Regions from separate parts of the Homo sapiens genome. Here region 1 is linked to region 2. The links come from fine-mapping of genetic effects on gene expression. Tissue or cell type: whole blood. Region 2 holds a variant in brackets; the other region holds the start of a gene. All regions are shown on one strand. Distances are between the middles of the regions.

What was found. PIP is the estimated chance that this variant, and not a neighbour inherited with it, causes the effect.
Region 1: it holds the start of WDR83, and the variant in region 2 is fine-mapped to the expression of WDR83 in whole blood (TOPMed, PIP above 0.99).

Annotation. Positions count from the first base shown.
Region 1 is chr19:12,664,029-12,669,264 of GRCh38, reverse strand. It overlaps WDR83 (WD repeat domain 83), which reads right to left and starts at 2,458. Exons shown (of 11, transcript NM_001099737.3): 1 at 2,273-2,458; 2 at 638-757. MAN2B1 (mannosidase alpha class 2B member 1) reads left to right here and starts at 2,523. Exons shown (of 24, transcript NM_000528.4): 1 at 2,523-2,722; 2 at 3,460-3,562; 3 at 3,740-3,913; 4 at 4,280-4,473. The coding sequence starts at 2,564. It overlaps WDR83OS (WD repeat domain 83 opposite strand), which reads left to right. Exons shown (of 4, transcript NM_016145.4): 2 at 32-137; 3 at 648-745; 4 at 840-1,192. The coding sequence ends at 906. RefSeq lists a silencer at 2,381-2,660 and enhancers at 2,911-3,040, 3,061-3,190, 3,251-3,300, 3,841-3,890, 2,957-3,904 and 2 more.
Region 2 is chr19:12,758,209-12,763,224 of GRCh38, reverse strand. BEST2 (bestrophin 2) reads right to left here. Exons shown (of 10, transcript NM_017682.3): 10 at 4,767-5,016. HOOK2 (hook microtubule tethering protein 2) reads left to right here. Exons shown (of 23, transcript NM_013312.3): 23 at 1-222. Among named protein-coding and RNA genes, the nearest start is that of BEST2, 8.9 kb to the right of the region's middle. The variant G/A (reference allele first, on the strand shown) is at 2,919.

The sequences.
Region 1 (5,236 bases), 94 kb after region 2:
TGAGCGCCCCTGACCCTCGAGCCTGTCGCAGGTACAAGCCCCCGCCGAGCGAATGTAACCCGGCCTTGGACGACCCGACGCCGGACTACATGAACCTGCTGGGCATGATCTTCAGCATGTGCGGCCTCATGCTTAAGGTGGGCGGGGTTGAGCTTCTATGGGTGTAGTTGGACCTGAGAACGAGGCCCGGGGGCGGGTTTGGAATGAAGCGGGGTGTCTTGTCATTGCTGATGGGGCGGGACCTGAGATCGGCCGGGAGTGGGGCTGCGATGACGCTGGGCCGAGAAAGCCCCAGTCTTTGGTGAAGTCAAGGATTCGAGTCAGGTTGGGGATGTGGCAGATTGGTCTGCGAGTGGGGCCAGGCTTTGAAGCAACTTGGAGAGGAGTTGTGGAAAAAGGGCAGGGTCTTAAGCATGTGGGATGTCAGAGTCTCTCTTGGTCCTGAGAGACGCAGGCCAGACAGTAGGACTAGAAACCACGTATCTAGAGTATGCCATGAGCAGGTGGGACTGAGGAATTCCGGGTGGGGCAAGGTCCCAGCTGCATCAGATGGAATCAGTGGGCATGATCTGGTGTCTGGAAAGGTGGCTTCGGGGACTCATTGTTGTGCCTTTCACTAACCTGCCCACCCACTTACCTTTCCCTAGCTGAAGTGGTGTGCTTGGGTCGCTGTCTACTGCTCCTTCATCAGCTTTGCCAACTCTCGGAGCTCGGAGGACACGAAGCAAATGATGAGTAGCTTCATGTGAGACTTGCCCTACAGAACAAGTGACTCTTGAGTAAGGGGTGGGGGGACCCCAGCCTGGCCATCCTAGACTGACACCTCTCTCCTGTCTCAGGCTGTCCATCTCTGCCGTGGTGATGTCCTATCTGCAGAATCCTCAGCCCATGACGCCCCCATGGTGATACCAGCCTAGAAGGGTCACATTTTGGACCCTGTCTATCCACTAGGCCTGGGCTTTGGCTGCTAAACCTGCTGCCTTCAGCTGCCATCCTGGACTTCCCTGAATGAGGCCGTCTCGGTGCCCCCAGCTGGATAGAGGGAACCTGGCCCTTTCCTAGGGAACACCCTAGGCTTACCCCTCCTGCCTCCCTTCCCCTGCCTGCTGCTGGGGGAGATGCTGTCCATGTTTCTAGGGGTATTCATTTGCTTTCTCGTTGAAACCTGTTGTTAATAAAGTTTTTCACTCTGGCTGTCAGCCTCTTCTGTTCAGTGGGGTGTTCCTCCTACCTGGCGGGAAGGGCTCTAGCCCCATAGGCCTGGTGTGGGGCCCCAGTCTGGAGGCTTCTGGCTGTTCATTTGCTTACTTCATAAACCTTGTGTCTTAAGTCAGGTGCTAGGGACAAGACAGTGACTTCTGCCCTCTGGCAACTCACCAGATGGCCCTGCTGACCTAGATAATCTAGGCTTTGGTTTCCTTTTTTTTTTTTCCTTTTTAAGAAAGAAAATGGTCTTGATCTGTCATGCAGGCTGAGTGCAGTGGCACAATCTATGTTCACTGCAGCCTCAAACTCCTGGGCTCAAGCAATCCTCCCACCTCAGCCTGCCACGTAACTGGGACCACAAATGCGTGCTACCATGCCCAGTTAATTCTTGTTTTTTTTGAGACAGAGTTTTGCTCTTGTTGCCCAGGCTGGAGGGCAATGGCATGATCTTGATCTCGGCTCACTGCAACCTCCGCCTCCCAGGTTCAAGTGATTCTCCTGCCTCAGTCTCCCAAGTAGCTGGGATTACAGGCATGTGCCACCATGCCCAGCTAATTTTTGTATTTTTACATTTTGTGTAAAATTACAAATTTTGTGTTTTCAAACCCGTCTCTACAAAACAACCCATGTTGCCCAGGCTGGTCTCAAACTCCCAGGCCCAAGTGATTCACCAGCCTGGCCCTCCCAAAGTGCTGGGATTGCAGGCTTGAGCCACTGCGCCTGCCCTGGGCTTTGTTTTCTTATCAGAGAATGAACTGGTAGGAATTGGGAAAGGCATGAAAGACTCGGGGTCCTTCCCCACTTGTCAGACCCTCTTTTCTCTCCGGAACACCCAGGGATCCTTCTCAACCAGGCTGGATCCCATCCCTGGTACTCCAGGGGTATTTACCCAACGTCCCAATCCCCACAGTATAGGACTCTTCATCAGATCCTCCTCTTAGGCAAGCTAGGTCCTTCCAGGACCCTAGCGCTGAAGGTCCATGGGACGGACACCCTGGATTCCCATGGACACACTACACCGGCTAGGAAAACCCGGCCCCCTTAGGAAAAGCACTTCTGCTCCTACCGGCATTAAGAGGCATTCCGTCTTGGAATTCCGGCATTAAGAGGCATTCCGTCTTCATAGCCCGTGAGACGCCAGTGTCACCTTTAGCCCAACCAGTGCCCTGAGGGTGGCATTTTCCTACCTTCCTGTAACGACCCCCGGGATTGCCCAGGGCTACAGCCTCTCTCCCGTGAGCCTCCAGACCGCGCCCTGGCCCCGCCCCCCACCCCGATTGGCCCGGCCGGGTCTGGGGGCGGGGCGTTTGCCCGGCCTTTCCAGGGCCGGGGAACCCCAGGAGGAAGCTGCTGAGCCATGGGCGCCTACGCGCGGGCTTCGGGGGTCTGCGCTCGCGGCTGCCTGGACTCAGCAGGCCCCTGGACCATGTCCCGCGCCCTGCGGCCACCGCTCCCGCCTCTCTGCTTTTTCCTTTTGTTGCTGGCGGCTGCCGGTGCTCGGGCCGGGGGATACGAGGTGAGTGGGGCCTCCGAGCTGAAACGTACAGGAGGCAGAGTGAAACCCAGAATACAGTCTAGAGGTGTGGGTGGGTCTGTCCTGTGGGTGTCTAGTGAATGGCTGATGATATGACAGTGTGGTCTGAGTGCGTGCTTTGTGTCATTGCGAGGTCTGGCTGTGCGCATCTGAGTATAGGACTGTGTCTGATTGTACCTGCCTCCGTGTCTCCGGGATGCTTGCCTAGACTTTGTCTGCACTTAACTGTGGGATTGGAGGGGCAGGAGGTGGCAGGGGGTGAGCAGTGTATGTGTGGGGGGAGGTGCTGGCTGAGAGCTGGGACTCTGGAGTCTGCCTGAAATTCCAGCCTAGCTCTTACACTTCCTGAGTGTGTGACGTTGGGCAAGTCACCTATCCTCTCTAAGCCTCAGTGCCTTCATCTGGAAACTGGGGATAACATCACCCCACCTCCCACGGTGGCCGTCTGCTGTCGGCAAATGCTGAACAAACATCAGCTACTTCTATTATTATTTTCCCGGAGTGTGAATGAGAGCTGCCCTGTGGGGTTGTGCAAAGTGGAGTTGTATCTATGAGCACAACTATGTATGTGTGTGTCCTGCCTGGGAGGGCCTGGCCTCCTCTGCACATAGGCGAGATCAGGCCTCTCTGAGTCACTCACCTCTAGATCAAGACTTACTCTGCAGCCCCCGACCTCGGGGGTTATTGACAAGGTATGTGTGTTTGGGGTCCCTGTGCAGACATGCCCCACAGTGCAGCCGAACATGCTGAACGTGCACCTGCTGCCTCACACACATGATGACGTGGGCTGGCTCAAAACCGTGGACCAGTACTTTTATGGAAGTGAGTAGAGGATGGGGACTGGTCCCTGGGATCCCCATGGTCCCTGTAATCCCTCTGGGTCCTGGACATTAGGGTGGGGCCAGTGCTACCCTAATATCCAGGGTTTGGGCTCCTCTGTCTAGGAATAACCCCCTTGGCTCTGCTGTTCCCTGAGAGCCTTATCCCTGTTATCCACAGTCAAGAATGACATCCAGCACGCCGGTGTGCAGTACATCCTGGACTCGGTCATCTCTGCCTTGCTGGCAGATCCCACCCGTCGCTTCATTTACGTGGAGATTGCCTTCTTCTCCCGTTGGTGGCACCAGCAGACAAATGCCACACAGGAAGTCGTGCGAGACCTTGTGCGCCAGGGTGAGCCTACCCCAAGGAAGTGAAAAGAGGAAGCCCAGCCCAGCTTCTGCTTCTGCATCTCTGGTTTCTGAGATTTGTCATGCCACGTGCAAGCTGTATAACATGCGTGTCGCTCCGCCTGCCTGGACTCTCCATTTGGAGACCTCCTATACATCCCACAAAGCCCCACCTGCTGTGCATCCTCTGGGAAGCCTGCCATGCAGGGGGCCTCTTTCCCATATCTGGGAACTATGGCCTGGGAGCGACCCCTCTTGTCCTTCCGCCAGAAATGTGTACACAGGCAGGCTTTCACATTCCCAGTATCACCCACCCTACTCCCACTCCTGGCTCTGACCGCTGACCCTGACCTTGCCTGTCCTGGCACAGGGCGCCTGGAGTTCGCCAATGGTGGCTGGGTGATGAACGATGAGGCAGCCACCCACTACGGTGCCATCGTGGACCAGATGACACTTGGGCTGCGCTTTCTGGAGGACACATTTGGCAATGATGGGCGACCCCGTGTGGCCTGGCACATTGACCCCTTCGGCCACTCTCGGGAGCAGGCCTCGCTGTTTGCGCAGGTGCGACCCGGGACCTCTCTTGGGCCCACTTCTTCACTCACTCTGGCTCCTCCCTCGCCCAGTCAAACCCCGCCCTCTCCCTGCAATCTCACAAGGACCAGGCCCAGGCCTAGGCCTGTTGAAGCCCTGCCCCTTGAGTGAGCCGTAAAGCCAGTGGCTTTTGAGCTCTGGCCTCAGCCGGCTATGCCCAGCCCAGGCTGACCCAGCTCCGGCTGGCTCCGCCCTCTCCCCTAATAGGCCCCTCTTGGTGTTCTGGCCCCACCCACTAGCTCGGGTCCTGGCTCCTCCCTAAACCGGGTGGCAAGTGGATGCCTAGGCTGCCTTAAAAACAGGTTCATTACCTGTGCTCAGACCCCATCCATCCTCAGGCTGTGGAAGGGGGAACCTCATTCCTGGAGTCAGGCCTGCTCTGCGCTTTGACAGTGCTGGGGAGGTGAACCTGGGTTCTGATGTTGGACCCGCCCTCTCCCTGCTAGCCCAAGGTGGTGAGTTCTGAAACTTCCCCAAGCTTGGAAATAAGCTGGAGGCCTCTCTGTTTCAGCCCTACGTGTTTTTGTTTTTGTTTTTTGAGACAGGGTCTTGCTGTCATCCAGGCTGGAGTGCAGTGGTGCAATCCTAACTCACTATAGCCTCAATCTCCCGGATTCAAGCGATTCTCCTGTCTCAGCCCCCCTAGTAGATGAGACTACAAGAGCGCACCACTACGCCTGGCTAATTTTTAAATTTTTTGTAGACAGTCTGCCCGTGTTGTGCAGGCTGGTCT
Region 2 (5,016 bases):
ATGGCGCCCAGCACTGGGCTTCAGCCAGGTGCTCGAGAGCTTTGAGGCCATGATCTCTGCTCTTCCCTCTCCCAGATTGGTGGGGAGGGAGGGCGGGAGGTAGATATAGGCCTGTTCTTTTTAGCAATGTGATTCTTGTTGTTGATTCTCTCTCTGGAGTTCATGTGCTGCCTCAGGAGACTCTGATTTTATATTTGAGAAAAATAAAGGCGTTCAATCTGCCCTGGCTGTGCTCTGGGCACCAAGGTGAGGGAGAGAAAGTGGGCCAGAGGCTTAGCCCATTGCTTTTAAGAAAAGCTTAGCGGCCAGGTACGGTGGCTCACGCCTGTAACCCCAGCACTTTGGGAGGCTGAGGCGGGTGGATCACCTGAGGTCAGGAGTTTGAGACCAGCCTGGCCAACATGGCAAAACCCCTCCTCTACTAAAAATACAAAAATTAGCAGGGCATGGTGGTACATGCCTGTAATCCCAGCTACTCGGGAGGCTGAGGTGGGAGAATCGCTTGAACCTGGGAAACAGAGGTTGTAGTGAGCTGAGATCATGCCATTGCACTCCAGCCTGGACAACAGAGCAAGACTCCATCTCAAAAAGAAAAAGAAAGAAAAGCTTGGCTTGCATTCTTACTAAAATGTGAGTGACCAATAGCACCAACCAGAGGTAGGTGAGGATCACGTTTGTGTGTCTGTGAATGTGTGGTGGTTTTGTTTTTTGGTTGTTGTTGCTTTTTTTTTTTTTTTTTTTTGAGATGGAGTCTCACTCTGTCGCCCAGGCTGGAGTGCAGTGGCACGATCTTGGCTCACTGCAGCCTCTGCCTCCTGGGTTCAAGGGATTTTCCTGCTTCAGCCTCCTGAGTAGCTGGGACCACCTGCGCATGCCACCACGACTGGCTAATTTTTGCATTGTTAGTAGAGACGGGGTTTCACCATGTTGGCCAGGGTGTTCTTGAACTCCTGACCTCAGATGATCCGCCCACCTCAGCCTCCTAAAGTGCTGGGGTTACAGGAGTGAGCCACCACGCCTGGCCACTAAGCTTTTCTTAAAAGCAGTGGGCTAAACCCTGGCCCACTTTATCTCCCTCACCTTGGTGCCCAGAGTTACCAGAGTGAGCCACCACTGTGGAACAATCATAGCTTGCTGCAGCCTGGGCAACAAGAGTGAGACCCCATCGAAAAAAAAAAAGAATAAAAAGGCCCAGAAAGGAGGCCTCACCAAGGAAGTGACATTATTGAAGCAGATACCTGAAGGAGGTGAGGGAGAGGCCATGTAAGTACCTGGGGAAGATCCAGGCAGAACAGTTTGCACAAAGGCCCTGAGATGACACCTCGCTTGGTGTGCTGGAGGGACAGTAAGGGGACCAGAGTGGCTGGAGTGGAGTGAATAAGAAAGCAGAAGGCCGGGCGTGGTGGCTCACGCTCATGCCTGTAATCCCAGCACTTTAGGAGGCTGAGGCTGGCGGATCACAAGGTCAGGAGATTGAGACCATCCTGGCTAACATGGTGAAACCCTGTCTCTACTAAAAATACAAAAAAATTAGCCGGGCGTGGTGGCAGGTGCCTGTAGTCCCAGCTACTCGGGAGGCTGAGGCAGGAGAATGAACCCGGGAGGCGGAGGTTGCAGCGAGCCGAGATTGTGTCACTGCACTCCAGCCTGGGCGATAGAGCAAGACTCCATCTCAAAAAATAAAAGGAAAGCAGAAGGCCGGGTGCAGTGGCTCACGCCTGTAATCACAGCAGTTTGGGAGGCAGAGGCAGGCAGATCACGAGGTCAGGAGATCGAGACCATCCTGGCTAACACGGTGAAACCCGTCACTACTAAAAATACAAAAAAATGCGGCCGGGCACAGTGGCTCACGCCTGTAATCACAGCACTTTGGGAGGCTGAGACGGGCGGATCACGTGAGGTCAGAAGTTTGAGACCAGCCTGACCAACATGGAGAAACGCCGTCTCTACTAAAAAAAAAATACAAAATTAGCCGGATGTGGTGGCATACGCCTGTAATCCCAGTCACTCTGGAGGCTGAGGCACAAGAATCGCATGAATCTGGGAGGCGGAGGTTGTGGTGAGCTGAGATCATGCCATTGCACTCCAGCCTGGGCAACAAGAGCAAAACTCCGTCTCAAAAAAATAATAATAATAAATAAAAATAAAAATACAAAAAAATTAGCCAGGCGTGGTGGCGGGTGCCTGTGGTCCCAGCTACTCGGGAGGCTGAGGCAGGAGAATGGCGTGAACCCGGGAGGCGGAGCTTGCTTGCAGTGAGCCGAGATGGCTCCACTGGCACTCCAGCCTGGGCGATACAGCGAGACTCTGTCTCAAAAAAAAAGAAAAAGAAAAAGAAAGCAGATGAGGGTGGGGAGATTATTCAGGGACTTGTGGGCTGCAGAGAATACTTTAACTTTTATTCTAAGTGCTGTGGGAGCCACGGAAGAGTCTAAGCAAAGGAGGGATGTGACCTGGCTCGGGTGTTCATAGGCGCCCTCTGGTGGCCACTCTGGGAGAAACAGGCTTAGGAGGCCAGGGCCAGAGCTTGAAGACCTGGTTGGTAGTCCAGGTGGGTGGGTGGGTGATAGTGAGGGCTCTGGCCAGGCTGGGGTCCTGGAGGAGTGAGAAATGGTTGGATTCTAGATACGATTTAAAGGCAAAGCTGGCAGGGCACGGTGGCTCACGCCTGTGATCCCAGCACTTTGGCTGGCCAACATGGTGAAACCCTGTCTCTACTAAAAATACAAAAATTAGCTGGGTGTAGTGGGCGCCTGTAATCCAAGCTACCTGGGAGGCTGAGGCAGGAGAATCACTTGAACCCGGGAGGCGAAGGTTGCAGTGAGCCAAGATCATGCCATTGCAATCCAGCCTGGTGACAAGAGTTAAATTCCGTCTCAAAAATAAAATAAAAATAAAGGCAAATCTCGGCCGGGCGC[G/A]GTGGCTCACGCCTGTAATCCCAGCACTTTGGGAGGCTGAGGCGGGCGGATCACCTGAGGTCAGGAGTTCGAGACCAGCCCCAACATGGAGAAACCCCGTCTCTACTAAAAATACAAAATTAGCCGGGCGTAGTGGTGCATGCCTGTAATCTCAGCTACTCGGGAGGCTGAGGCAGGAGAATTGCTTGAACCTGGGAGGTGGAGGTTGCAGTGAGCCGAGATCGCGCCATTGCGCTCCAGCCTGGGCAACAAGAGCGAAACTCCGTCTCAAAAACAAATAAATAAATAAAATAAAAATAAAGGCAAAGCTGATAAGATTTGCTGCTGGGTTGGTGTGGCCACTGGGTTGATGTGATGGCCTGTGGCGGGAATAGGAATCCACATGACTTCTTTTGGCCTTATCACCTGGAAGGACAAAGCTAACACACAGGGTGGGGCAGATTGGGGGGCTGATTAGGAGCTGGATTTCAAGTGTGTTATGTTTGAAGTGTCTGTGACATCTCTGCAAGGAGGCATCCAAGAGGCAGTTGGCTTTCTGGGTCTACAGTTAGAGAAGGGATCCTGGCTGGATTTCTTTTTCTTCCTTTTTCTTTTTCAGATGGGGTCTCACTCTGTTGCCACCCAGGCTTGAGTGCAGTGGCACAATCTCACTGCAACCTCCATCTCTCAGGTTCAAGCGATTCTCCTGCTTCAACCTCTGAGTAGCTGAGATTATAGGTGCCCACCACCTCGCCTGGCTAATTTTTGTATTTTTAGTAGAGACGGGCTTTCACCATGTTGGCCAGGCCTGTCTCCAGCTCCTGACCTCAAATGATCCACCCATCTCCACCTCCCAGCTGGGATTACAGGTGTGAGCCCCACTGCAGCACCAGGCCTCTTTTTTTTTTTTTTTTTGAGACAGGGTCTCACTGTGTTGCCCAGGCTGGAGTGCAGTGGCATGACCAGAGCTCACTGCCTTGGCTGGACTTTTATATTCAGGAGTCATCAGGAGTCCGTGTGATATTAAATTAGTAAAACCTGAAGCCCTGAGGGCCTGAGAATGCAGAGGCTTGAGGCAAGAAGAACCCATGATCCTGGGACAGTGGCTGGCTCATTAATGAGTAATGCCAGGGCACTGATGTGGGTGTTTCAGACAGCAGAGTTTGGGAAGAATTAAGCAGGGCACCATCATAAAACCTGGAAGAGGTGAAACCCCGTCTCTACTAAAAATACAAAAAATTAGCCAGGTGTGGTGGTGCGCACCTGTAATTCCAGTTACTTGGGGGACTGAGGCACAAGAATCCCTTGAACCAGGGAGGTGGAGGTTGCAGTGACCCAAGATCGTGGCACTGCACTCCAGCCTGGGTGATGAAGTGAGACTCTGTCTCAAAGGAAAAAAAAAAACCTAGAATAAGCTGGGCCTGGTGGTTGTGGTGGAGGAGGAGGAAGACGAGAAGGAGGAGAAGGAAGAAGAAGAAAGAAGAAACCTGCAGCAGGGCTTGGTGGCTCACGCCTGTAATCCCAGCACTCTGGGGGGCAGAGGTGGGTGGATCACCTGAAGTCAAGAGTTCGAAACCAGCCTGGCCAACATGGTGAAACCCCCCTCTCTACTAAAAATTAAAAAAAGTTAGCTGGGTGTGGTGGTGCGTGCCTGTAATCCCAGATACTTGGGAGGCTAAGGCAGGAGAATTGCTTGGGCCTGGGAGGCAGAGGTTGCAGTGAGCAGAAATCACACCATTGCACTCCAGGCTGGGCAACAGAGAGAGACTCCGTCTCAAAAAAAAAAAAAAAAAAAAGAACCTGCAAGAACTCCCAAATTTTACTTAGGACAATGGATAATGTCTGGCAGGAGAAATCAGACTAACAACGTTTGAGTAAAAATCACTAGCAATTTATTGAGCACCTACTGTATACCAAATGCTTTAATGCCATTCTTTCATCCTCATGACAACTCGAGGAGGTAGTCAGTCACATCTTCACTTGAAGGAAAGAATTCAGGCAGGACACTGATAGAGACCTCTCAGGCAGTGGGGGTTGGGAAGTAGAGCTGGTGGTCAGGGCGGGCTGGTCCAAGAGTCTGGAAGAACTCCCGCCCCTAGCACAGCGCCAAACACATGCG